Homo sapiens: one gene and its partners. The protein of the gene in region 4 purifies or fractionates together with the protein of the main gene of each other region. This does not show direct contact. Each region holds a gene or a part of one and is shown on either strand. Other genes may lie near its edges.

Region 1 (2,694 bases), on a different chromosome or scaffold from region 4:
GGGTTTTGCCATGTTGGCCACGCTGGTCTCGAACTCCTGACCTCAGGTGATCTGCCCGCCTCGGCCTCCCAAACTGCTAGGATTATAGGTGTGAGCCACAGCGCCTGGCCGGATATGTTTCTATTTCTATGGAGAATGTCATTGGTATTTTTGGTAGGGATTGCATTGAATCCATAGATTGCTTTGAGTAGTATGGCCATTTTAACAATAATAGTTCTTCTGATCCATGAATATAGGATGTCTTTACATTTGTTTGTGTTCTCTTTAATTTCTTTCATCAGTTTTTAGTTTAAAAATATAGAACACTTCACAAATTTGGGTGTCATCCTTGTGCAGGGGGCCATGCTAATCTTCTTTGTTCAAGTTTTGGGTATGTGCTGCTGAAGTAAGCACTGAAAGAACTTTTCTCACAGGGTCTTTTAACCTGTTCCTCCTACCAGGCTTTCTTGGCTTGCTGTTTAACTGTGCTCTTGGGAAACCTCTTTTTACCATTCTTTTGGAGATTCCTTTTAGCTTCGTAGAGGAACCCGTTTCCTGGGTGTCATGTCTTTCCTGTTACTCCCCTATTTTCTGATACAGCACATCTTCCAGTGATTCTTGAGGGTTCAGGGATGGAAAACATTGAGGCCATACATCTCTGCAGGGATCTTTATTCTCTCCCCATGTTTGGTAAGATTTTGATTGAATATAGATGTAGATTGGAAATCATTTTTATAATTTTGAAAGCATTTCTCCATTGTAGACTTTTCTGGCTTCCAGAGTTGCCTGAAGTCTTGATCTTTGCTCTTTGGCCTGTTTCTTCTTTCTGGAATTGTTAGACTCTCCTCTTTTGCCTCCATTGTTCTGATACATCAGGATGTGTCTTGATGTGGGTTTGTTTTTATCGTTTGTGTAGGGAGTGCAGCATGCTCTTTTGTGAACTTCCATTTTGGGGAATTTTCCTGAATTATTTATTTGAAGATTTTGTCCCCTAATCCTTCCTTTCCTTCTTACCTTTTGTCTTTGTGTCATACTTTCTCAGATTTATCTTTCATTACCATTCTGTTGAGATTTTAACTTCTGCTGGGCGCAGTGGCTCACGCCTGTAATCCCAGCACTTTGGGAGGCCAAGGCGGGCAGATCACGAGGTCAGGATATCGAGACCATCCTGGCTAACACGGTGAAACCCCATCTCTACTAAGAAATACAAAAAATTAGCCAGGCGTGGTGGCGGGCGCCTGTAGTCCCAGCTACTCAGGAGACTGAGGCAGGAGAATGGCGTGAACTCGGGAGGTGGAGCTTGCAGTGAGCTGAGACCGTGCCACTGCACTCCAGCCTGGGCAACAGAGCCAGACTCCATCTTTAAAAAAAAAAAAAAAAAAAAGAGAGATTTTAACTTCCACTATTTCTTTAATTTCTAAGTATTCTTTTTTATTTTCTGGATGTTTCCTTTTTATGCCCCTCTGGGTTCCCCCCCACCCAACTCTCCAGTGGATGAAGTATTCATTAAAGATATGGAGTTCAGATTTTTCTCCTTAAAATTTTGTTTCTTTGCTGAGTCAGTTTTCCCAAAATTGCTTTTATTATTTTTGTCTCAGTGTTTCTTATTAAATACTGTCCTCAAATGCCTGGTACTCCTTGGCTACCTGTAGTTGTTATGAGTGTAGGACACGTAAATACCACTTAAATCCTTTCTACATTGATAGGGCTTACAGATCTTGAATTTCATTGTAGATTTATCTGGTTTATCTAGCATTATTTTACTTGGGAAAGTTTGGATGTTAGTATCCTTCATTCTTTTCACTTAGTCTGTCAGATACCCCAAAGAAGATGCATCCAGTCTCCTGCATGGAGGGTATCAGAGAACTTCATTTGCCAGTGTTCTGGGAGCTAAGATTGGGAAGATGGCTGGAGCGCTCGGTATTTTGTGAATATCGAGCTACACTTAATTCCTGTTTTCAAAATGATATTCTTGCCCTTAACTGTATGTGGTGTCTCCCAGTCCAGACACTTCTACAAAGACTAAAACACTAAACTTCTGTTCTGGTGCGGTGGAAGAGGAGAATTACCATCTTTTTTTTCTTTTTTTTTCTTTTCCTTCTGAGATAGGGTCTCACTCTGTTTCCCAGGCTGGAAGGCAGTGGCAGAGTCAGGGCACACTGCGTCCTCGACCTCCTAGGCTCAGAAGATCTTCCCACCTCAGCCTCCTGAGTAGCTGGGATTACAGGTGCACGCCACTACGCCTGGCTAATTTTGAAAAATTTTTTATAGAGATAGGATCTCGCCATGTTGCCTAGGTTGTTCTCAAACTCCTGGGCTCAAGCAGTCCACCTGCCTTGGCCTCCCAAAGTGCTAGGATTATACGCATGAGTCACTGCACCCACTGATAATTACCATCTTTGTGTTGGTGTTGGGAGGGATTGATTCTGGGTATCTGCTTCTAAACATACTCTGCCATCCTTTTTTTTTTTTTTTTTTTTTAATTCCCACTACATCCTCACTTCCATAGGTATCTGGAACCTAAACATTTTGGGTATGTTTGGTGTAAATGCAATTGCTTCTGTTCTTTCCCTACTGCTCGTTTAGTATCAACTCTAGTCAGCCTTCCAGCTTCTAAACCTATATCTTTGTAAAAATCCCTTGTTGTTTTAATGCACTTTTCAAAGAAGATAGAGCTAAGTGTATTTGTTGATTTCACTGTCTTTAACCATAAGT
Region 2 (3,500 bases), on a different chromosome or scaffold from region 4:
GGTTCAAGCAATTCTCTTGTCTCAGCCTCCTGAGTATCTGGGACTACAGGCACCTGCCACCACGCCCTGCTAATTTTTGTATTTTTAATGGGGACAGCGTTTCACCATATTGGTCAGGCTGGTCTCAAACTCCTGACCTCAGGTGATCCACCCGCCTTGGCCTTCCAGTGTGCTGGGATTATAGACGTGAGCCATCGCGCCTGGCCAGATGTGTTTCTTTTTTTTTTCTTTTCTTTTTTTTTGTTTTTGAGATGGGGTTTTGCTCTGTTTCCAGGCTGGAGTGCAGTGGTGCGATCTTGGCTCACCACGACCTCCACCTCCTGGGTTCAAGCGATCCTCCTGCCTGAGCCTCTGGAGTGGCTGGGACTACAAACATGTGCTAACACGCCCAGCTAATTTTTGTATTTTTAGTAGAGACGGGGTTTCACCATGTTGGCCAGGATGGTCTCGATCTCTTGACCTCGTGATCTGCCCACCTCGGCCTCCCAAAGTGCTGGGATTACAGGTATTAGCCATGGTGCCTGGCTGTGTTTCCCTTCTTATATCCTTTTCCCATGCCACTTCCTTCCCATTTTACTCCTTTTTTCCTAGCTTTTATGTACATGTATACATATAGACATATGCCTAGACACACATACATATTAGCTTTTTTTTTTTTTTGGAGACAGAGTCTCTGTCACCAAGGCTAGAGTGCAGTGATGTTGTCATGGCTCACTGCAGCCTTGACCTCACCAGCTCAAGTGATCCTCCTGCCTTAGCCTCCTCAGTAGCTGGAACTACAGGCACATGCCACCATGCCCAGCTAATTTTTGTATTTTTTGTAGAGCCAAGGTTTTACCATGTTGCCTTGGCTCGTCTTGAACTCCTGGGCTCAAGCGATCTGCCCACTTTGGCTTCCCAAAGTGCTGGGATTACAAGCACGTACCACTGCGCCAGGCTTACATTGTAAAAAATGGGCCGGGTGTGGTGACTCACTCCTGTAATCCCAGCACTTTGGGAGGCCAAGTCGGGCGGATCACGAGGTCAGGAGATTAAGACCATCCTGGCTAACACGGTGAAACCCCGTCTCTACTAAAAATACAAAAAAAATTAGCCAGGCGTGGGGGCGGGCGCCTGTAGTCCCAGCTACTCGGGAGGCTGAGGCAGGAGAATGGTGTGAACCCGAGAGGCAGAGCTTGCACTGAGCCAAGATCGCGCCACTGCGCTCCAGCCTGGGTGACAGAGCGAGACTCCGTCTCAAATATATATATATGGAATCCTAATTTCACATTTTATGCAACTCGCACTTGCCACTCAGCAGAATGTCTTTTATTTCGTAGTATGGATACGTATAATTTGTTTGATCAGTTAATTGAAATTTGGAGGCTTTCCAGTGGTTATCAGCAATTCTATAGTCAACATCTGTGTTCAGTATATCTTTTTGTATGTGTAAGAATTTTTTTGTATTGTAGATTTCCTAGAAGGAGAGTTGTTGAGACATAGGATATATGCATTTAAAGTTTTGATGGATGTCTCAAATTGTCCTCCCAAATATCTGTTCTCATGTCTTGAATCTTTTTATTTTTTTTGAGACGGAGTCTCACTCTGTCACCCAGGCTGGAGTGCAGTGGCACTATCTTGGCTCACTGTAACCTCCACCTCCCGAGTTCAAGTGATTCTTCTGCCTCAGCCTCCCAAGTAGTTGGGTCTACAGATGCGTGCCACCATGCCTGGCTAATTTTTGTATTTTTAGTAGGGACAGAGTTTCACCATGTTGGCCAGTCTGGTCACGAATTCCTGACCTCAAGTGATCCACCCGCCTTGGCCTCCCAAAGTGCTGGAATTACAGGCGTGAGACACTGCTCCCAGCCTCATCTCTTCAATCTTGAACATGTTACATTTATGACAAATCAAAGGTAGTGGCTAGTAAACTCCAAAAGGTTTTGTTAGTTCAAAGGTTTTTTTTTTTTTTTTTGAGACGAAGCCCCTGTCGCCCAGGCTGGAGTGCAGTGGCACGATCTTGGCTCACTGCAAGCTCTGCCTCCCGTGTTCACGCCATTCTCCTGCCTCAGCCTCCCAAGTAGCTGGGACTACAGGCGCTGCCACCATGCCCAGCTAATTTTTTGTATTTTTAGTAGAGACAGGGTTTTCACCGTATTAGCCAGGATAGTCTTGATCTCTTGACCTCGTGATCTGCCTGCCTCGCCTCCCAAAGTGCTCGGATTACAGGCGTGAGCCACCGTGTCTGGCCAAGTTCAGAGGTTTTCTTAAAAATTGTGGTAAAATATATGTAACATAAATTTTACTATTCTAACCGTATTTAAATGTATAGCTCAGTGGCATTAAGTACATTGACACTATTGTACAACCCAAAGAGTGTTGTTTTGATTAGAAAATAAGCAGCTTCAGGAAAGGCATAGATGACTCTGACTTTGAATTCAGTGGGATAAAGGAAAGTAGGATGTTTTGGTGTCTAGTACTAGAAGGACAAAAATGCCTTCCACAGTTTGTGTTTCAGTGCCTTTGTCAGAGATGGAATGTTTAGGTGGGCAGAGTTATAAGAACACTCCAGCCATGGTAGACAGAAGCCCACAGACCAATCAAAATACATTGAGTCTTGGTTCTTGGTTCAGGACAGGATTAAAAAAGAAGTGGGGGTAGGGAAAGATTGCTTGTTGTAAAGTATAAAAGCCTGGACACGATGGAAGTGATTTGCATGTGCTTCTATTTGTTTGTGTGTTTTTCTGTGTTCAGATTGTCTTTTTATATCTCACCATTTCAAAACGATTTGTTTTGGTTATTAAAGATATATACGGTATTTACCTTTTAACATAAGATTAAAAAATTAGTAAATGAAAATTTGAAAGAAAAGAAAAATGATACAATCACTATGGTATGAATAGAACACAGAATTTGTGCCAAAGAAAGTGTAATTTGTTTGTCCCTGAGCTTCCTAGTAGCAAAGAAAAGAGGGAAACACAGTCATTCCGTGGTCCATAGGATTAGGACAATCCAGAACTCAGGATTAGTATAGCTTTCCCCAGAATAGAGACCTCAGAACATTTACCCTTGAATTATAAGTAAATGATTACTGTAGAAAACCTGATCTTCAATCACATCTCTGAAGTCAGTACTGTGATAAGTTTAATGGAACTGTTTGTTACCATGTCCTTCAATCTAGACTGATGGCATAATGTCAAAGTACAGTGCAGGAAAGGGACCAGATGAAAATGATTCAGATGTGTAGCCTGCTGATGTTCTGACTTGGCCAAGAATAAAATTAGAGTAGCTACAGTAATGCTTATTTCTTAAGTTCATTTGAGTATGAACTCCATAATTTTGCCGTGCTTGTGTTTCATCTATAGTATTGTTCACTTAATACAGTGTTTTTTGTTTTTTGTTTTTGAGATGGAGTCTCGCTCTGTCGCCCAGGCTGGAGTGCAGTGGCACAAACTCAGCTCACTGCAAGCTCCGCCTCCCTGGTTCACACCATTCTCCTGCCTCAGCCTCCCGAGTAGCTG
Region 3 (3,500 bases), on a different chromosome or scaffold from region 4:
ATACTTCAAAAACTTCTAAAGGTTTGGGAAACAAACGTTCATGTGAAGGAGCCATATGGGCTGATAGCGAGGCTTGCCCCAAGCCTGGCCAGTCTCTGATTGCCCTGCAAGGCCTTTTTTATGTTCATCCCAGAGGCTGAAGCCCAGCTAGGGTGGACCTTGTGGTGACTTCAGAGCTAGATGGGACCAGATCAGTCATCCAGCAAACTGCCACATGTTGCAGATAAGGAAACGGGATGGGAGAAGAAGAGAGATCTTCTTTCTGCTGCCTGTTTTCCAGCCCACCCTCAGGAGGAGGAAGTGGACTTTTCTGTCCGTAATTCAGTTTCAGTCAACATGCCTTTGTCAAGTTCCTACTGTATGCCAGGTGTTAGGCCTGTAACTGTGAACGGGCCACAGACTCTGCCTCCAGGGGCTTGGGGTCGGCTGGGGAAGCAGATGGGCAGTGCAGGGGAATGGGTACAGGGTGCTAGAAGAGGGGAGCCTTCCATTAGGCCTCTTTGTAGAGGCAGGTGGGTATGAGGCTGAAGGACCCGTAGGGATTTGCCCGTGCGAGAGAGAAAACAGCTAATCCAAATGCCCAGAACGTGCTGTTTTGCATGGCTCGGGGATGAGGTGGCGGGAGCGAAGGCCAGAGGCCAGATCAGGAGTTGTATTCTGAAGGTTGTAGGGAGCCCTTGAGGATTTGACTAAGAAGATCATTATTGGTTCTGTTTCAAGACATTCATGGCAACAGTGAAAAATGGACGAGAAAACGCATGGTAGAGACAGGAGAACCATGAAGACATTGAACTGTTACACATGAGAAATAATGAGAACTGCAAGATGGGCTCCAGGCAGCAGGGAGGTGTGAGGAGGAGACAGGGCAGATGCCCTGATCTGTTGGCTCTGGAATCTGTAGGGTTTGTTGTTGTTGTTGTTGGTTTTTTTAATGTACAGTTCAAGGTTGGGTGCAGTGGCTCAGGCCTGTAATCCCAGCACTTTCTGGAGGCCGAGTCAGGCGGATCACTTGAGGCCAGGAGTTCGAGACCACCCTGGCCAACAGGGTGAAACCCTGTCTCTACTGAAAAAAAAAAAAAAAAGCTGGGCATGGTGGCATACACCCATAGTCCCAGCTACTCGGGAGGCTGAAGCAGGAGAATCGCTTGAACCTGGGAGATGGAGCTTACAGTGAGCCAAGATCATGCTGTGCACTCCAGCCTGGGCGACAGAGTGAGACTCCATCTGGGGAAAAAAAAAAAGTACAGTTCAGTAGTATATTCACACTGTTGTGTAACAGGTCTTTAAAACTTTTTCATCCTAAACTAAAACTCTGTACCCATTAAACAATTCCTCATTTCTACTTCCCCAGTCCCTAGCAGCCTCCATTCTACTCTCTGTTTCTCTGGGGTTGACTAGTCTAGGGATCTCATATAAATGGAATCATACAGTATTTATCTTTGTGACTGGCTTGTTTCCCTTAGCATAATGTCTTCAGAGTTCATCCCTGCTGTGGTGTATACAGGATTTCCTTTTGTTCGAAGGCCGAATGACATTCTGGAATCTTTGGTTCTTTTAGCAGGCTGGGTATGGTTAAGTGACAGGGAGGGAAACACACTTGGCTGGACTGCGTGCCGCTGCTGCTGTGACTGTGGGCCTGGGTGTAGGGATAAGCAGCGAGGAGGCGAGCACCCTGGATGAGGTTCGCGTTTACCTACCTCCCGGGGTTAAGTGTGGCAGGGAACCAGGCCTCCTGCTTCTCTGTTCCTTGGGAAAGACAGCTTTTGCATCTTCAGATCTCTGGAGACACAAGTGGGTAGGGTTGGGGAAGATTCTCTCTCAGGGCTTCAGGGCTACAGGGTTGCCCCAGAGAGCCTCTGCCATTCCACCAGTCTCTGTGGCTTCTGTTGGAGGTTTTGTGGACATTCAGAATCATTTAAAATGTTACACGGACTCTGAGGAGCTCATCTGGGAAAGACTATCTCAAAGAGATAACAGAAAAGTCATTTGTGTGTAATATAATTTAGTTGTAGAGTAGAACTCAGATAGAATGATTCCAGAGCTTTGCATAGAGTGGGCAGGCAAAAATAACTGTCAAGTTGACTTTTTGGAGGTTTCAGGTGAGATTTTCAAACATTCAAGCATTTATTCCTTCTTGGTGTCAGTGGAGCCCTGTGACACTCACACAGGTAGGTGGGCAAGAAGCATGGAGCGCACCCTAATTAAATGCCTACTCTGTGCAGGCCCTCCTGTGATCTTTGCTAAGTGAATAGTCATTATGAAATCAAACAGATGAAGTCAGATATCTTGGGGAAAGTCACAGTCAAGTCTGTCTTTAAACTCAGAACATTTCTATTCTACACGGGTACTTCTTAATCTTAGTCACTTGTGTCTGGGTTAAGCCCTTAAATAACTTATACCAGTTTCCCTAGCATTCCTTCCTGCAACCTAGAGATTCCTAATTATGATAATATCCCTGATGGAATGCAGTGGTTCCCACATCTGGCTTGTCCCCAGCAAAGAATTGAGGATTCAGCACTCTGTGAAGGAAAAGCATGGTGTGCAGTTAGAGCAGATCCACAGTGACCTGACTTCATCAGAAGGGACACATGTCTGAGGAGGTGACATTTAAGGAGAGACCTGCAGATTAGACCCAAACTTGGCCAGCAGGCAGCATAGTAAGAAGAGCCCCACAGACCGTAAGTGTGCTCAAGCAAGTCCTGCCGCTTCAGCCTCTGAGGCCAGACCTGGTTCTGCAGGACTTAGGAAGCCTAACTGCAGTGCACTGCAGGGAGCCCGCAGAATGGGCGAAGTGCAGTCAGACCCGGACTGGGAAGCATTAAGGTTATTTCTAGTTTATTGGAGTTGAATAATCAACATGTTCTTTTTTTAGAAAAATAACCTTTTTACTTTTGAATAATTTAGATTTATAGAAACATTGCCAAGATAGTAAGTCTCCATATATCCTTCACTTAGCTTCCCCAAGTATGAATACAGCCATGGTACATTTGTCAAAACTAAGAAATTAACATTAATCCCTCTTTGTGCATGTAGCTTTGAATCTCTGTGTAGTATTTCTTTTGGAACAGTTGTTAGAAATGGGAGGTTTGAGGCCAGGCGCGGTGGCTCACGCCTGTAATCCCAGCACTTTGGGAGGCCAAGGCGGGCGGTTCACGAGGTCGGGATATTGAGACCATCCTGGCTAACACAGTGAAACCTGTCTCTACTAAAAATACAAAAAATTAGCCAGGCGTGATGGCGGGTGCCAGTAATCCCAGCTACTCAGGAGGCTGAGGCAGGAGAATGGCGTGAACCCGGGAGGCGGAGCTTGCAGTGAGCGGAGATCGTGCCACTGCACTCCAGCCTGGGCGACAGAGCGAGACTCCATCTCAAAAAAATAATAATAAAAAGAAATGGGAGGTTTGAGAATGTGGGATCATTGTTAGAGTGCCCTCCAGGTGGCTGTGCCCTGTCCGCTCCTGCCCTCATTGGTGAGAGTGTCTTTCTCCCACAGCTCCAGT
Region 4 (3,500 bases):
ACAAGAGCGAAACTCTTATGTCAAAAAAAAAAAAAGTTTATGCCAAAGTGCAGATCTCTTTTCTCTTGGTGGCCAGTAGTTGTGTATGTTGTGGGGTATGTGATAGTTCTTTGATCGGTTTTGGTAAGGGCTCAAGAAGAAGGGGCTTGAATGAGTGTGGTTTTGAGATTGTGGTGAGTGAATGCCTTGAAGGCCACTGATTTTTGTGTGGCAGATGTTGAGCTCTTTTCTGTTAGGTGCAGGAAGGTAGGTTAGCATTGAAGGGTGCATGAAAGCTCTGATCAGCCTGTGTTTGGCTTAAATGCCAGTCATTGGTGGAGGTAAAGGATGAACCCGTGTTTCAGCATCTACACTCCACCATTAATTAGCATTGTCAGTTCTTAGAATGAGTCTGAATCTGCTAGTTTGGTTTGCCTTCTTTCAGTTTAGGCAATTGTATTCCTAGACTATGAAGATTTTTGTTTTTCTTACTTGGTCCCCAGATGTCAGTATTGAATATGGTGGTGAGGCGTGACCCTGGCAACACTGAACCTGTGAAAGCCAAGGAAGAGCTCATATTTCACTGTGGATTCAGGCGCTTCCGAGCCTCACCTTTATTCTCTCAGCACACTGCAGGTTAGCAATGGGGAAGCTGGGTTCTTGTCCATCTTGTCTTTTGGGAAAGTGACTTGTGGTGGAGGGGTGCCAAAATATATGGTTTCAAAATCTTACATCTCTGGGTTAGAGGTATTTTCAGTACTCTGGCTTAAGAGCCAATGATGTTTTTATTCAAAATGTCTGAACCTGTCTGAAGCATCCCAGTGATGCAACTTCTGTGTGATACTGAGGCTTTTTTGCCATGAGTATTTGTTCCATAGCAGGTTTTGAATAGAAGTTGGCAGCTTTATAAAAAGGGTATTAGGGTGGGTGCAGTGGTGCAGTGGTTCACACCTGTAATCCCAACACTTGTGGCATTAGAACGGGGAATTGAAGACCAAAAAAGGTAAGATTTAATCTTGTTTTTGTTTCTGTTTTTTTTTTTTTTTTTTTTTTTTTTTTGAGACGGAGTCTCACTCTGTCGCCCAGGCTGGAGTGCAGTGGCGCGATCTAGGCTCACTGCAAGCTCCGCCTCTCAGGTTTACTTACACCATTTTCCTGCCTCAGCCTCCCAAGTAGCTGGGACTACAGGCGCCCGCCACCATGCCCAGCTAATTTTTTGTATTTTTAGTAGAGACGGGGTTTCACCGTGTTAGCCAGGATGGTCTCTATCTCCTGACCTCGTGAGCCGCCCGCCTCAGCCTCCCAAAGTGCTGGGATTACAGGTGTGAGCCACCGCGCCCCCTCTTGTTTTTTTTGTTTTTTTTTGTTTGTTTGTTTGTTTGTTTTTTTGGAGACGGAGTCTTACTCCGTTGCCCAGGCTGGAGTGCAATAGCGTGATCTCGGCTCACTGCAACCTCCGCCTCCCGGGTTCAAGCAATTCTCCTGCCTCAGCCTCCCGAGTAGAGTAGTTGGGACTACAGGCATGCACGACCATGCCCAGCTAATTTTTGTATTTTTAGTAGAGATGGGGTTTCACCATGTTGGGGTTTAGTAGAGATGGGGTTTCACCAAGACCAGGAGTTCAGGCTGGTTTTGAACTCCTGGTCTCAGGTGATCCGCCCACCTCGGTCTCCCAAAGTGCTGGGATTACAGACATGAGCCAATGTGCCTGGCCTCTTTTTTTTTTTTTTTTTTTTTGAGACCGAGTCTCACTCTGATGCTCAACTGGAGTGCAATGGTGCAATCCAGGCTCACTGCAACCTCTGCCTTCCAGGTTCAATCAGTTTTCCTGCCTCAGCTTCCCGAGTAGCTGAGATTACAGGCACCCGCCACCACGCCTAGCTAATTTTTGTATTTTTAGTAGAGACGGGGTTTCACCATGCTGGCCAGGCTGGTCTCGACCTTAGGCGATCCTCCTGCCTTGGCCTTCCAAAGTGCTGGGATTACAGGCGTGAGCCACTGCGCCTGGCCAGTCATTCTTTTATTGTTTCAAAATGGTTTTGATTTTTTTTTTTAGGATGAACTATTTTCATATTTTATACAGTTGGGAAAATAAGGAATAATGTAAAAGTAAAATTACCTTATATTAGAGAAAATTCATTTTTATTTTATACATTTTCATCCAGATCTCATTTTTTTTCTTTACACAATTTGGATTGTAATTGTAAATATGGTGTTAAACATTGCATTTATCACTTAATTGATTTTGATCAATTTTCCATAAGATTAATTAGTTAATGAGACTTTTAATGCTTTATTGTCATTTGGATATATTCCAGTGTATGTGATGTACTGATACTTATTTGAGCTTCTACGGGTGAGCACTTAGGCTATTTCTAATGTTTTGCTCTAAACTAGATCTGTATGCATAAAACTTTATTTACTTCTTTGCTTATTTTGTAAAGGCAGATCCTTAGAACTGGAACTAAATAAAAGTCTCAGTTGCAGAGACTGAGGCAGGAGGATCGCTTGAGGTCAGGAGTGTGAGACTCCGGTCTCTACAATTTTTTTTTTTTTTTTTTTGATATAGAGTCCAACTCTGTCACCAAGGCTGGAGTGCAGTAACATGATCTCAGCTCATTGCAGCCTCCCCGTCCCAGGTTCAAGTGATTCTGGCGCCTCAGCCTCCCAAGTAGCTCGGACCATAGGTGTCTGCCACCACGCCCAGCTACTTTTTGTATTTTTAGTAGAGATGGGGTTTCACCAAGTTGGCCAGTCTGTTCTCAAACTCTTGACCTCAGGTGATCCACGTGCCTTGGCCTCCCAAAGTGCTGGGATTTATAGGGATGAGCCAACATGCCCGGCCTCTACGAAAAAAAAATTTTTTTTTTTGGGAGATGGAGTTTCACTCTTGTTGCCCAGGCTGGAGTGCAGTGGCAGGATCTTGGCTCACTGCAACCTCTGCCTCCTAGGTTCAAGTGATTCTCCTGCCTCAGCCTCCCAAGCAGCTGGGATTACAGGCGTGTACCACCATGCCTAGCTAATTTTTCTATTATTAGTAGAGATAGAGTTTCACCATCTTGGCCAGGCTGGTCTCAAACTCCCGACCTCAGGTGATCCACCCGCATTGGCCTCCCAAAGTGCTGGGATTACAGGCATGAGCCACTGCGCCCGGCCAAAAATTTTTCTTTTTAATTAGCCAGGTGTGGTGGCATGTGCTTTGCAGTCCCAGCTACTTGGGAGGCTGAGGCAAGAGGGATTGCCTGAGCCAGTGGGCCCAGGAGTTTGAGGCTCCAGTGAGCTGTGTTCACACCACAGCCCTTAAAATATTTTATTTTCCTATAAGTTTAGTATTTTTAAAAGGGGGGTGAGGGCTACATTGAAGGTAGAACACCAAATACAGTCTAGCCTAGATAGCAGAGTGAGACACTGTCTCTCAGAATTTAAAAGGGTGTGATAAAGTGTGGAAACTTTGATGTCTAGTGTGCCAAGGGCAGTGTGGGTGAAGGAATGGAGGCTGGGTATGGCTCATAGTTGGGTAA
Region 5 (4,060 bases), on a different chromosome or scaffold from region 4:
AGACACCCTAAATACTTGTAACAAAATTTCTCACGTACCCCATAAATTTGTACAAATAAAGTTAGTCACTTGGTTTTTTTAAAAACTTTTCGCCCAGGCGCGGTGGCTTATGCCTGTAATCCCAGCACTTTGGGAGACTGAGGGGGGCGGATCACCTGAGGCCAGGAGTTTGAAACCAGTCTGGTCAACAGGGCGAAACCCCATCTCTACTAAAAATAAAAATATTAGCAGGGCGTGGTGGTGTGAGCCTATAATCCCAGCTACTTAGGAGGCTGAGGGAGAAGAATCCCTTGAACCTAGAGGGCAGAGGTTGCAGTGAGCCAAGATCGCGCCCCTGTACTTCAGTCTGGGTGACAGAGCCGGGCTCTGTCTCAAAAATAAAAAAAAAATTCATTTCTATGCCTTCTTATGTAAGTACAGAAAGAAAAATTCCGTTTAAATGGAGATGTTCATTGGTTGAAGATGGTTAATCAAAGACATGCTGCATTCAAGTAAAAAGCAGACAAAGGCTTGAATATCGAGGAGTTGCAGAGCCAGTATGGGTAACTATTCTAAAATCCTTAAATCGCTCCTGGGCCCTCGAAGTCCTACCCGCGTAGGTCAGCCCGAACTATCAAAATCCCCACTTCCTCTGGAGGTAAGGACGTCCGCCGCGCTCTCCACGTGTCACCTTAAACTCCCACCCCAACCAGCGCAGGCGCACTTCGAAGCCTCCTAGACCAACCTAAGAGAAGTACTGAGCAAGCGCATGAGTTCCATTAACCACGCCCTCCGGAGCTGCCGGAGCAGGCGCAATTAGGAGTAGAGGGCGTGCTTGTGTGATTACAGTCCACTTTACCTTTAACAGATTTGGTTGTCTGGACTCTAGCTCAGGTTCTTTTACCCCTGTCTTGTTGGAAGTCACTTTGCCTAGAGTAGAAGTTGTTTGCGGGAAAAATTTGCTCCTCCCATTAAGTAACCACTTTGCTCTCTGAGGCGGAACGTGTCATTGAGGCAGCAAGTCCTGACAGATATGGAAAAAAAAAGGCACATTGTAGAGAATATCTACACTCCGCCAACTCAGTCACAACGCAAAAATTACACAAAAATAAAACGTTCACTTGTTACATACTATGTGTTTCATAAGACATACAAGTAGTTTTATTTTCCTATATCAATGAGAACAGCACTTCTAACTATTAACAAGGACCTATACTAAGACGCAGCGCGTGCGCGAGCCATCTGGCGCTGTAAAGCGCTTAGAGGCTGGAATAACGACCTGCCTTACGCTTTGCGGCTGTCGTCGGAGAGGCATCTGGGTTCGGACTGGGGCCGCCATGGGGAAAGTGAATGTGGCCAAGTTGCGTTACATGAGCCGAGATGACTTCAGGGTCTTGACCGCGGTAAGAAACCCGCCGTTCCTGTTCTCCCTTCCCCTTAACACTGTGTGACCTCTTCCTGTTCCTGCAAGTTTTCTGGGATCTGAGCAGGCACACTCTGGGACCCGGGACGTGGCAGAAGCTGGGAATGGAGAAGAGAGCATTCAGAAAGTCGGATTTTTAAAAAGGTTTTGTTTGGGAGCTTACCTTCCCCCAGATAGAGCAAAGGTCCCGTCTTCTAATAATTGTTTTCTTTTCTGCTGCTATTCGCTTTGCGCTGAAGAGAAACGCTTGCATCTCTGTGGCCTGGAAACTTCTCTGATCCTGAGCTTCCGACCAGCTGTGAAAGGTTTAAGCCCCCCCCCCCCCCCGAGATTTGATAATATTGACTTCCCTACTAACAGACTCAGTCGCATAGCAGTCTTTCTGATTCATTCAGTCAACACATATTTGTCGGTTTTTTAGTAGCAACATTAGGAGGTTCACTTGTTCAAACAGACAAGTGGAGAGAGAGACACAGATCATCAAGTAAACGAAAAATAGGATAATGGATAAATGCTATGAAAATGATAAAGGATAATGGCATAGAAAGTATATGTATCTGGTGGAGAGGAGGGGCACAAGTTATTGGCCTTTGGTAGACAATCAATAAATATTCACTAAATGAAAGAATGAATGGGGGAATAATAGGAGCTGTGTGAGAAAGAGACAGCCCAGTGAAGTCCTTGGAAAGAGTTGGAGGCAGAGGAAACAGCAGTAGTAAGTGCAAAGGCCTTGAGACAGAAAAGTCTTTGAAGAGAGGAAAGGCCAATGTAATGTGGCTGGAGCAAAGTGAGATGCACACTAATGGTTGGAGATGTAGCGGAAAAGGTGAGAAATTATGTACTACAGAGCCTTGGAGGTTTGGTAAAGAATGTGGGGGTAACCACTAAATGTTTTTAATCAGGGGAGTAACAAAATCTGATTTTATGGCCTCAGTCTTATGGCACAGAAATTAATATATAGATCAAGACATTTGTACATTTATTTAGGAGCCGTTATCTTTTGGTAAGGAGTGAACCCCATGATAAGGACTACCTATATTGTGTAATTATGTAATAGGATATGCGATGTGAGTCACACTGGTTCTTGCATTATGTTAAGGCTTCAAGTTTTGGATTTTTAAAATTAATCTTAAATAGCGCTTAAGTATTAAACTATCAAATGCAAAATCAGTGTGAAATTTGGAAGACAATGTTTACTTTGCCTCTCATGTAGATTCTTCTAATCAGCTGGACTTTCTCTATGAAAACCTACTATCACTTCGGAAAGATACCTTCCTTTCCTGCTTTCTCAGCACACTCATTCCTTAGTGTCTCTGACAGAAGTAGGGGTCAAAAGTAAGAGTGTTAGAGGACGGGGGAGGCAGAGACAAAGCATGGAAAATAAGTTAAATTTAAAAGTTAAGGTTTTGGTGAGACATCAAAATGATGCCAGATTTATCTTCCAAAACATTGGCGCTGCAATATTTAAATTATTTGTAAAGTTCACCAAGAAATGACTTAGTCATTAAATATGACATTCCGGTCTCAGTTGAATCTCACCAGTGTTGGTACCCTTTCTTGGGCCTCTCTTCCCTTTTACTTCTTTGGCTCCTCCTATATCAATAATCATTGTTTGACTAGCTGCCCTTAGCTTTCAATATGAACTTGCCCCAGAATTCTGCTCCCAAACATTCCTTTTCTTCCATTATCTCCTGCTCAGTGATAGCATCCACTTCACATCTTCAACTCTCACTTCTATAAAATAATTGACAATTTTTCCTTCTAATTATAACTTCATTCCTAAATATAGGCCCCTTTCCTATTTAATTTTCTCTCTTTCTTTTTTTTTTTTTTTTGAGACGGAGTCTTATTCTGTTGCCAGGCTGGAGTGCAGTGGCACAATCTCAGCTCACTGCAACCTTCACCTTCTGGGTTCAAGCGATTCTCCTGCCTCAGCCTCCCAAGTAGCTGGGACTATAGGCGCACACCACCACGCCCAGCTAATTTTTGTATTTTTAGTAGAGATGGGGTTTCACCATGTTGGCCAGAATGGTCTCGATCTCTTGACCTCGTGATCCACCCACCTTGGCCTCCCAAAGTGCTGGGATTACAGGTGTGAGCCACTGCACCTGGCCTCCAGTTTTCCTTTAAACATTTTTATTTGACTCTCAGTGCTCAAACCAAATTCAATTTTTTTCTACCCCCTTTCTCTTTTCCCAAGCTCTATAAAAAAAAAAAATAATAAAATCTTAAAACTTGCTTTTCCTCATCACTTCCAATTGTGGCTTTCCGTTCCCTTTACCCTTCCACATCTAATTGCCAAGCTCTCCCATAATACTTCCTAAAGATTTTTATTCCTTCCTTCCAGTACCACTACCACTTACCCTGTTCTGGTGGCTCTTTCCTCTGAGCTGGACTTCTGTCTTAGTTCTCCGGAGTACCCCCTCAGATTTTGCCATCTCTAAGCCAATTTGCATATTCCTGGTACATTAATGTCCTTAAAATAACCCTGTTCGTGTGTCTCCCACGCCTAAACATCTTCAAGAGCTTCCTGCTCTCATCAGGATAAAATATAAAAGTATTTGGTCTACATTTTAATGCCTTCTCTATCCTAGAAGTATCTTCCAGCCGCGTTTGCATGAATTCTATATGCTATCCCATCTGAGCTGCTACTGTACT
Region 6 (4,208 bases), on a different chromosome or scaffold from region 4:
GGTTAAAGAGACGTAGAAAATATTTCCAAAGGCACAAGTTTAGCATGAGGGACTTCCCTCACAGGAAAGACACCTGGTGTTTTATATGTCCTTCTGAGCACAGACAGGGTATTTCTATGAAGTTACAAAGCTGCAATCCCGTTCTCATGTGCAGCACCACAGGTTTTGCTTTCAAATATCTGCAGGTGCATCCTCCTGCACTCGTTAAACTAAGGGTTTTCCTTTTCTGTGCTAGACCCGCTTTTACGACCACGCTCTCCACCTGATTCACAGAAAGGGTTCTACGACCGTCAGGTCACCGCCGCCTTTGTACTTTATTGGGGAGTCGAAGGCCTCAGCGCTGCTCGCGATTTCCCTAAGGTGGTCGGGAAGGTCCCAACCACGTTCTTCTGTAAACCAGATAAGGAAGGCCTGGGGATTCCGGCCGCGGAAAGGCACAGAGGAGGTGAACGCTCCGGCTGCCCAAGTGACGCACTTGTAGGCGGATTCGGAAACTCGTGCTCTTGAGCCGGAGGCGGAGCCCCCAGACTCAGACCGACCCCCCAGAACCGGGCGGCCTTGCCCGAGGCATGAAGGCTTTCTAGGCCCGCTTCTAAAAGCTGTGTACAATGGAGACTCCTGGAATAGGCACATATCTCTACTGTAATCAGAACGAGATGTAACATCTAAGACGCAGGGCAGGGCTCTGGCAAAGACACGCTGGGGGAACGTGAAAGAAAGGGCCAAAACTACGCAGCTGGTCCTCAGAGACCAAAGACTACGACCCCCAGCATTCAATGCAGTGAACCCCTAGGACGTTGCATGCCGGGAGCTGTAGTTTCTCACCACCGCCACCCCCCCGCCCCCCCGCCATCTGAAAGGGTTCTAGGGGATTTGCAACCTCTCTCGTGTGTTTCTTCTTTCCGAGAAGCGCCGCCACACGAGAAAGCTGGCCGCGAAAGTCGTGCTGGAATCACTTCCAACGAAACCCCAGGCATAGATGGGAAAGGGTGAAGAACACGTTGCCATGGCTACCGTTTCCCCGGTCACGGAATAAACGCTCTCTAGGATCCGGAAGTAGTTCCGCCGCGACCTCTCTAAAAGGATGGATGTGTTCTCTGCTTACATTCATTGGACGTTTTCCCTTAGAGGCCAAGGCCGCCCAGGCAAAGGGGCGGTCCCACGTGTGAGGGGCCCGCGGAGCCATTTGATTGGAGAAAAGCTGCAAACCCTGACCAATCGGAAGGAGCCACGCTTCGGGCATCGGTCACCGCACCTGGACAGCTCCGATTGGTGGACTTCCGCCCCCCCTCACGAATCCTCATTGGGTGCCGTGGGTGCGTGGTGCGGCGCGATTGGTGGGTTCATGTTTCCCGTCCCCCGCCCGCGGGAAGTGGGGGTGAAAAGCGGCCCGACCTGCTTGCGGTGTAGTGGGCGGACCGCGCGGCTGGAGGTGTGAGGATCCGAACCCAGGGGTGGGGGGTGGAGGCGGCTCCTGCGATCGAAGGGGACTTGAGACTCACCGGCCGCACGCCATGAGGGCCCTGTGGGTGCTGGGCCTCTGCTGCGTCCTGCTGACCTTCGGTGAGTGATTCTGGAGGAGCAGACGTCCCCCCTCCACACACGCGGCCGCTTCTCGAAGGTCCTGGGGGCGTTGAACGTGGGAGGGGGGATCCCGGGGCCTGCGGTGGGCCAAGGGACGTCACCATTCCTCGAAAGAGGGCAAGGGAATTACGTTTATTCTCTTCTTCCTCTGGAAATAAAAAAAGAGAGCAACATCATCTAACTGCCCTACAGATCTAATAGTATCTCGCCCGGAGGTCTCAGCGACCTCGGGGTGGGGCCTCTCTGAGGCTCTGGCTCCCCCGGGAGCTGTGCGAGTCCCTCCCCCCTCCCCGCCCGGAGGACTTTTTCGGCCACCGCAACCTTCGGCCATCCCAGCTTTCCCGTCCCCTAATTCCCCAGACTCCGACTCCTCGCAAGCCCGTGTCCCTTCTTAGATGCTGGCCTCGGGAGCGTGAGGCCTGGGGCCAGCGGAATGGCAGTGTCAGCGTGTTTGATTCAGTTTTGCTGGAGTTCGGTTCTTAACATTTCTCCCCCTTCTCATGCCTCTGGGCTCAATTTCAGTTCCCCTCGCCAGAGGTTGCATAAATCCTATTTGCATTCTGACCTGTGCTAACGAAGGCCGAAGTTTTGGCTTGATCAGTTGGGAGGCCTTGGCTCGGCCTGCGCGCAACACGTGTGGGTGTAGAAGAGGCCTGGTATCAGTCTGCTTAACGTTATTTATAAATGATCGGAGACACACTGTTTAGAAGTGGTGACTGCCTCCGTATTTCAGGATCTACTGGAGACTTCAGCATCTGAACTTAAATAGATGTTCTGTCTTGGCTTTACCTTTGGTATTTAAACCAGGGAATGCACTCTTTCATCCCCACCTCCCTTAGTTACCAACTGAATTTTGCAACCCCTACCCTTCCCTATTTGATCATCCTCCTTGGAGAAGTGTGATGTTGAAGAGTTTGCCCGTGTTAAATCTTCAGGGTCGGTCAGAGCTGACGATGAAGTTGATGTGGATGGTACAGTAGAAGAGGATCTGGGTAAAAGTAGAGAAGGATCAAGGACGGATGATGAAGTAGTACAGAGGTTTGTGTTCATTTGAACTTACGTATACAGATAAGCCGTGTGAACCTTGTGAGTTACGGTCACTTCTTATGTATCTCTTCTCCAAAGGTCCAGATAAAGTCTAACACCCTGTATTTAAATACCCGGTGAGTTGTGTGCATACATACCTCCTAACTTGTCCCTAGGAGTGATGAAAACTGAGTGAATTCCTTTGAAAACTATATTGCAGAATACTAGCACCATAAACTTTGTAAGACTTTATAGAAGATACTTTCAGTTGGATTTGTATTCATTAACTGTGTACACCGAGTAAGTTTAAAAATGGGATTTCTGTCAGTTGAACAATATTTTAAAATTTGGCCTCTTGGGACTTATTGACAGTTTTGAAGTCCTCACTGTGGAGCATAAATGAGTATGACTTTGCTTTTTAGTAGAGGAAAGTTGGGATTTTTTTTTTTCTGGCAATTTTAAGAACCGAGTATTTCCAGTGTAATGTTAAAGGTAGCCTACTGCTGTGCTAACATAATGAGACGGTATATCAGTTATATTTTATAAAGGTTTCCATTTTAACCCCCAAGACAATATTCAGAGGCCCCTGTGCTTTCATCATAATTCCTCTAGTTTTGAAGGGAACTATGCCATGCAATATTTGCTTACCTAACTGATTTCCTTAGAGAGGAAGAAGCTATTCAGTTGGATGGATTAAATGCATCACAAATAAGAGAACTTAGAGAGAAGTCGGAAAAGTTTGCCTTCCAAGCCGAAGTTAACAGAATGATGAAACTTATCATCAATTCATTGTATAAAAATAAAGAGGTAAGCAACATGTGGTTAGAATATTTTATCTCTGTATGGTGGCATACTTGTTTACTTAAATTTGCTTAATTTACTGCAAAAGTAATGTAGTATCCAAGTAAGTAGGTAACAACCTTTAAATACCTAATATGTCCAAGAATTGCTACCAGATATCTGGGAAGAAAGGGAGTGTCAGACATTTTCCTTTTCCTTTACCTCTAAATAGGTTCACGGCCTGATAATAGTTGTGAGTCTAAGGGCAGTCACATAAACTAAACTTCTTGCATTGCATACCTGAAGATCACTGTTAGGTGAATAAGAGTGCTTTTATAAGGTACAGAGAAGAAATAAATGGGTTTGGCATAAAATCGAATATCTTAATGCATCTTGAGGATAGTCTAAGTGTATTCCCTCTGGCTTCCATTTAGATTTTCCTGAGAGAACTGATTTCAAATGCTTCTGATGCTTTAGATAAGATAAGGCTAATATCACTGACTGATGAAAATGCTCTTTCTGGAAATGAGGAACTAACAGTCAAAATTAAGGTAAGTGTAAGGCAGTTTTTCTTTCTTTTAAAGGAAAAGGAATCCTTAAAGGTAGAGGATCCCTATCAGTCAAGATAGGCTAGATTATTTTGCAGTGGCAAAAAAACCCCAAGTCTCAGTGGCTTGAAAGTCATCAAACTATGGCCAAATCTAACTTGACTTGTTTTTCTAAGTAGTTTTATTGGAATGCAGCCATGCCCATTTGTTTATTATCTGTGACTGCTTCTGTGCTTCAACAGCAGAGTCAAGTTGTTTTAACAGAGAACA
Region 7 (4,118 bases), on a different chromosome or scaffold from region 4:
TTTTTCTTAGAAAAAAGGCATAAATCCTTTGAATGTCCTACAGATCTTGCAATGTCTGGTTCCTGCTTATCCCTCTAGTTTCTTAAGGAGATAAACTTCTTCCCATCACTGAGCTTCTGCATGTGCAGAAGCCCTGGAAACCTTGTCCTTTACTCCTAGTTTGACCTAGTTAGCTTCTGCACATACCAAAATCTGTTTTCATTCATCCCAAATCTGTTTTCACTCTCATTGAACCGTAACCGTGTTCCTTTGTGTGAGACAACTCATCTCGGTTTGTATTTATGTATCGTTGCTTTGATTATTGAACTGAGTATCTCTCCCACTAGAAAATAAACTCCATGAGATGGGGGACATTACCATTCACATCCCTGGGAATACCAGGCACTCAGCTGATGCCTGTCGAATGTGTTAGGTTGCCTCTTCCAACCACACTGCAGGCATCCTGGTGCCCGCTTTGGCTGGACTGCACTGGGGGTGGCAGGACGGTTGGGCGCGGAGGAACTACCCCGCGGATGAGAAGAAAGGTTTTAAATAGGAAACATTCCTCAGTCGGCGGTCAGCTTCTCTGGTCTCGCGCGGCTCAAGCCATGCTTTGGGGGACGCTGGGCGAAGGCTCTGGCAAAGAGGAATGCAGACCCCAGGATCCGCACTCGCCCCCAACGGCAGTCCGGATCCTCGACCCGGCACCCACCTCCCGAAGCAGCTTCAGGTCCCCGTGCTGGATCTCGTACAGCTGAATGACGCCGGTGCCCCGTGCGAAGTTGCCCATGGTCACAAATTTGGCGCTGCAGGGCACCCACTTACAGTCAAACACCGTGTAGTTGAAGCCCTTCTGGATATGGGCGATGATCTGAGGCTTCTCGAAGGCCGACATGGTGCAGCCAATTTCAGCTACGGCAACCGCCACACCCAGAGCCCCCAAAAACGGCAACCTGGAAACCAGACTCCAAACATTGGCAATTTGTCCCTCCCGCTTTCCGTATTCTGCCCCAGATGCCCTGGCATGTTGGCTGTAGTTATCCCCGGATAATGCCAGATGCGCTCCTGCGATCGCACAGAATGTTCCTTCACAACAGCACGAATTTGTTTATCGCCTTTACCCACTGCCTTTCGCACACATACATACTAGAGATTACAAAATACTTGGGCTGGGAGTTGCGCGGCTGGAGTGAGCCCAAGACCATCAGGCATATCTTAGGACAGCCTAACCCCGTTTTCCCCCCCACCGGCCCCAAATCCTGCAGGTCCCCGGCCTGTGACGTTTTAGGAAAGGGGCGGAGCTGCAGGGGTGGTTGGCTGAGGCTGGCTTCTGCGTGGTGCAGCTGCGCACGTGTTTCAGCCGGCAGCGCTTTAAGATTTCCGGGGATGGAATCCGAAATGGAAACGCAGAGCGCCAGGGCAGAGGAGGGCTTTACCCAGGTCACCCGCAAGGGTGGCCGACGGGCGAAGAAACGACAGGCTGAACAGCTGTCCGCAGCAGGAGAGGGCGGGGATGCGGGCCGCATGGACACAGAGGAGGCCAGGCCGGCGAAGAGGCCCGTCTTCCCACCCCTCTGTGGGGACGGGCTCCTGGTATGTGGCTGGGACCCTAGGACAGCAACGAGGCAAGGGCCAGACGCGGATCAAGCCGATGGCCTCTGGAGAATGTTGAAGCTGCGGTGGGGCTGTTCTGCCGTGATGCTCAGAGAGAAGTGATTCTTTGAAGTGTAACTAGTTCAGTTAAAGGAGGCCCTTTGTGGATCAGATGTCATTTTAAACTCCATCACCGTCCCTCCATAGCCTTCTGAGTTGTGTGTTCTTTTATTTACAGAGTGGGAAAGAAGAAACAAGGAAAATTCCAGTCCCAGCTAACAGATACACACCATTGAAAGAAAACTGGATGAAGATATTTACTCCTATTGTGGAACATTTGGGACTTCAGATACGCTTTAACTTGAAATCAAGGAATGTAGAAATCAGGGTAAGGAAAATCTCAATCATTTCCCAATACACCAGGCTTTCTCTCCTACAGAGATGAAAAGGCATGAATAGGCTTTACTTAATGGGACTTTTCTGTTGTATGGTTTTTGTCCAGTTTAAAAATTTACCATATTGAGTTTGAACTTCCCAAATGCCTTAAAAATCTGCATTCGATACAAATATTAATTGAATTTGTAAATTAGTTCTGAGATCACACCAAAATACTGGCTCTTCTTCTGTGTATCTTTTATAATGTTCTATGTCAAATTGAGAAAAGGTCGAGTAAAGAGATTGCCATAAACAGAAGCAGGTAAATAATGAATATAAGCACTTGCTGCTTTACAAGAAGTATATACAGTCAGCGTCGGGAATATGTTCTGGGATATGTTTTGTCAGATGACTTAGTCCTTGTGCGAATATTATAGAGTGTACTTACACAAACCTAGATGGTATGTGTATATTTGTTTATATATTTTTTTCATATGGAAAACCAAATGTCCCAGCACCATTACTGAATATCAGTCATTTCATCTACTTGATCTGCATTGCCGGTATCCAGTGCCATATATCAGGTTTCTGTATATTCTCCATTATACTGTTATGAGACCACCATGGTATGAGCGGTTGGTCACTGATCAAAATGTCATTATGCAGTGCATGACTGTGTTTTAATGGTGCTCTTTTGATTAAAAAATGTATTATTTTGATAAGAAACATGCATATATATGTGTGTGTGTGTGTGTGTGTGTGTATATATATCTTTTTATTTTGCTCTTTCACCCAGGCTGGAGTGAGTGGCATGATCTTGGCTCACTGTTAACAGGTGCCTGCCACCAAACCTGGCTAATTTTTGTATTTTTAGTAGAGACTGGGTTTTAGCATGTTGGCCAGGCTAGTCTCGAACTCCTGACCTCAGGTGATCACATCTCGGCCTCCCAAAGTGCTGGGATTACAGGCGTGAGCTGCCCCACCGAGCCTATGTATATATTTTAAATTCTGTGCTATCAATCCGGGAATTAGACATTTAAATTTACTTTGGGCTTTCTTTTCTGGGTGCCAATTTCATACCAGAATCGATAACCGAAATTAATTATATTTTCCTTTTTAAGGATTCTTTTACCATCATCCGGACTGGTATAGTCTCATCTCTGTTAATGGAATATAATAATGGAACAAAGAAAGGCACTATTCTAAATAGTTGATAAAGTGTAAAATATCATAGAACATGATAGAGTAACTCCTCTTTGTCCCTGTTGCCATTCTCTCATTCAGGCTTTTATGGTTTCCTGCCAAGGAGTGGTTTCGTTGTAGGTTTCCCTTGCTTCATTGTTTGACGTCTCTCCTTTCTCCACTCATCCATCTGCCAGTGCCAGATTAAGTTTCCCAGATCACAATGCTTTTATGACATCCTGGCATCTTCAAAAAACAAAAAAAAATTTTTTTTTTTTTTTTTTTTTTGAGATAGAGTCTTGCTCCGTTGCCCAGGCTGGAGTGCAGTGTCGCAATCTCGGCTCACTGCAAGCTCCGCCTCCTGGATTCATGCCATTCTCCTGCCTCAGCCTCCTGAGTAGCTGGGACTACAGGCACCCACCACCACGCCCGGCTAATTTTTTGTATTTTTTAGTAGAGACAGGGTTTCACCGTGTTAGCCAGGATGGTCTTGATCTCCTGACCTCATGATCTACCCGCCTCTGCCTCCCAAAGTGCTGGGATTACAGGCGTGAGCATCTTCAACATTTCTAAAGGAAAAAGTTTTGGACTTAACTTGCTTTTCAAGTAGGAGACTCAGTCACAAGTTTGTCTCTCACGGATCATAAAGTTTGTTTATGTCCATACTTTTTGGTGGCTTTGGCCTTTGAAAGAGGTCCGCTCCTCCCTACTCCTTTCTCTTTATACTTCAGTTCCAGTATCTTTCCGGGTCTAGCTCAAGTTCTTTCTCTGTTATGGTATGTCCATTTTTCAGTCATATCTTCAGTGCCTAAACTTTTCATGTGCTTTATTGTCCTATTTATTGCAGGATAATCACTTTGGATTCCACTAACATTTGTTGATGCTGCCATATACCAGACACACAGTGGTATTACACCATGCTCTACATCATTTAGTCTTCAGGATATTCCCATCTTAAAGATGTGAGGAAACTTGGCCACAGTCATCAG

Evidence for each region.
Region 1: the proteins of TSR1 (region 4) and NUP153 purify together in Homo sapiens (affinity purification with mass spectrometry; 3 studies listed by BioGRID and IntAct, with this or other methods). This does not show direct contact.
Region 2: the proteins of TSR1 (region 4) and PARN purify together in Homo sapiens (affinity purification with mass spectrometry; 2 studies listed by BioGRID and IntAct, with this or other methods). This does not show direct contact.
Region 3: the proteins of TSR1 (region 4) and PPP6R3 fractionate together in Homo sapiens (co-fractionation; one large-scale study listed by BioGRID). This does not show direct contact.
Region 5: the proteins of TSR1 (region 4) and RIOK2 fractionate together in Homo sapiens (co-fractionation; 3 studies listed by BioGRID and IntAct, with this or other methods). This does not show direct contact.
Region 6: the proteins of TSR1 (region 4) and HSP90B1 fractionate together in Homo sapiens (co-fractionation; one large-scale study listed by BioGRID). This does not show direct contact.
Region 7: the proteins of TSR1 (region 4) and PNO1 purify together in Homo sapiens (affinity purification with mass spectrometry; 2 studies listed by BioGRID and IntAct, with this or other methods). This does not show direct contact.

The regions. Positions count from the first base shown.
Region 1 is NC_000006.12:17,617,232-17,619,925, reverse strand, and holds part of NUP153 (nuclear pore complex protein Nup153), read left to right. Parts: intron 1-2,694. UniProt on the Homo sapiens protein: Component of the nuclear pore complex (NPC), a complex required for the trafficking across the nuclear envelope. Functions as a scaffolding element in the nuclear phase of the NPC essential for normal nucleocytoplasmic transport of proteins and mRNAs.
Region 2 is NC_000016.10:14,620,261-14,623,760, reverse strand, and holds part of PARN (poly(A)-specific ribonuclease PARN), read left to right. Parts: intron 1-3,500. UniProt on the Homo sapiens protein: 3'-exoribonuclease that has a preference for poly(A) tails of mRNAs, thereby efficiently degrading poly(A) tails.
Region 3 is NC_000011.10:68,596,752-68,600,251, forward strand, and holds part of PPP6R3 (serine/threonine-protein phosphatase 6 regulatory subunit 3), read left to right. Parts: intron 1-3,500.
Region 4 is NC_000017.11:2,326,458-2,329,957, reverse strand, and holds part of TSR1 (pre-rRNA-processing protein TSR1 homolog), read left to right. Parts: intron 1-482; coding exon 483-615; intron 616-747; exon of another isoform or gene 748-833; intron 834-3,500. UniProt on the Homo sapiens protein: Required during maturation of the 40S ribosomal subunit in the nucleolus.
Region 5 is NC_000005.10:97,180,448-97,184,507, reverse strand, and holds the start of RIOK2 (serine/threonine-protein kinase RIO2), read left to right. Parts: upstream 1-1,260; 5' UTR 1,261-1,316; coding exon 1,317-1,382; intron 1,383-4,060. UniProt on the Homo sapiens protein: Serine/threonine-protein kinase involved in the final steps of cytoplasmic maturation of the 40S ribosomal subunit. Involved in export of the 40S pre-ribosome particles (pre-40S) from the nucleus to the cytoplasm.
Region 6 is NC_000012.12:103,929,002-103,933,209, forward strand, and holds the start of HSP90B1 (endoplasmin precursor), read left to right. Parts: upstream 1-1,408; 5' UTR 1,409-1,514; coding exon 1,515-1,563; intron 1,564-2,519; coding exon 2,520-2,622; intron 2,623-3,275; coding exon 3,276-3,417; intron 3,418-3,824; coding exon 3,825-3,941; intron 3,942-4,208.
Region 7 is NC_000002.12:68,156,570-68,160,687, forward strand, and holds the start of PNO1 (RNA-binding protein PNO1), read left to right. Parts: upstream 1-1,318; 5' UTR 1,319-1,365; coding exon 1,366-1,572; intron 1,573-1,810; coding exon 1,811-1,960; intron 1,961-4,118. Other genes in the region: DNAAF10 (dynein axonemal assembly factor 10), read right to left, coding at 692-874. UniProt on the Homo sapiens protein: Part of the small subunit (SSU) processome, first precursor of the small eukaryotic ribosomal subunit.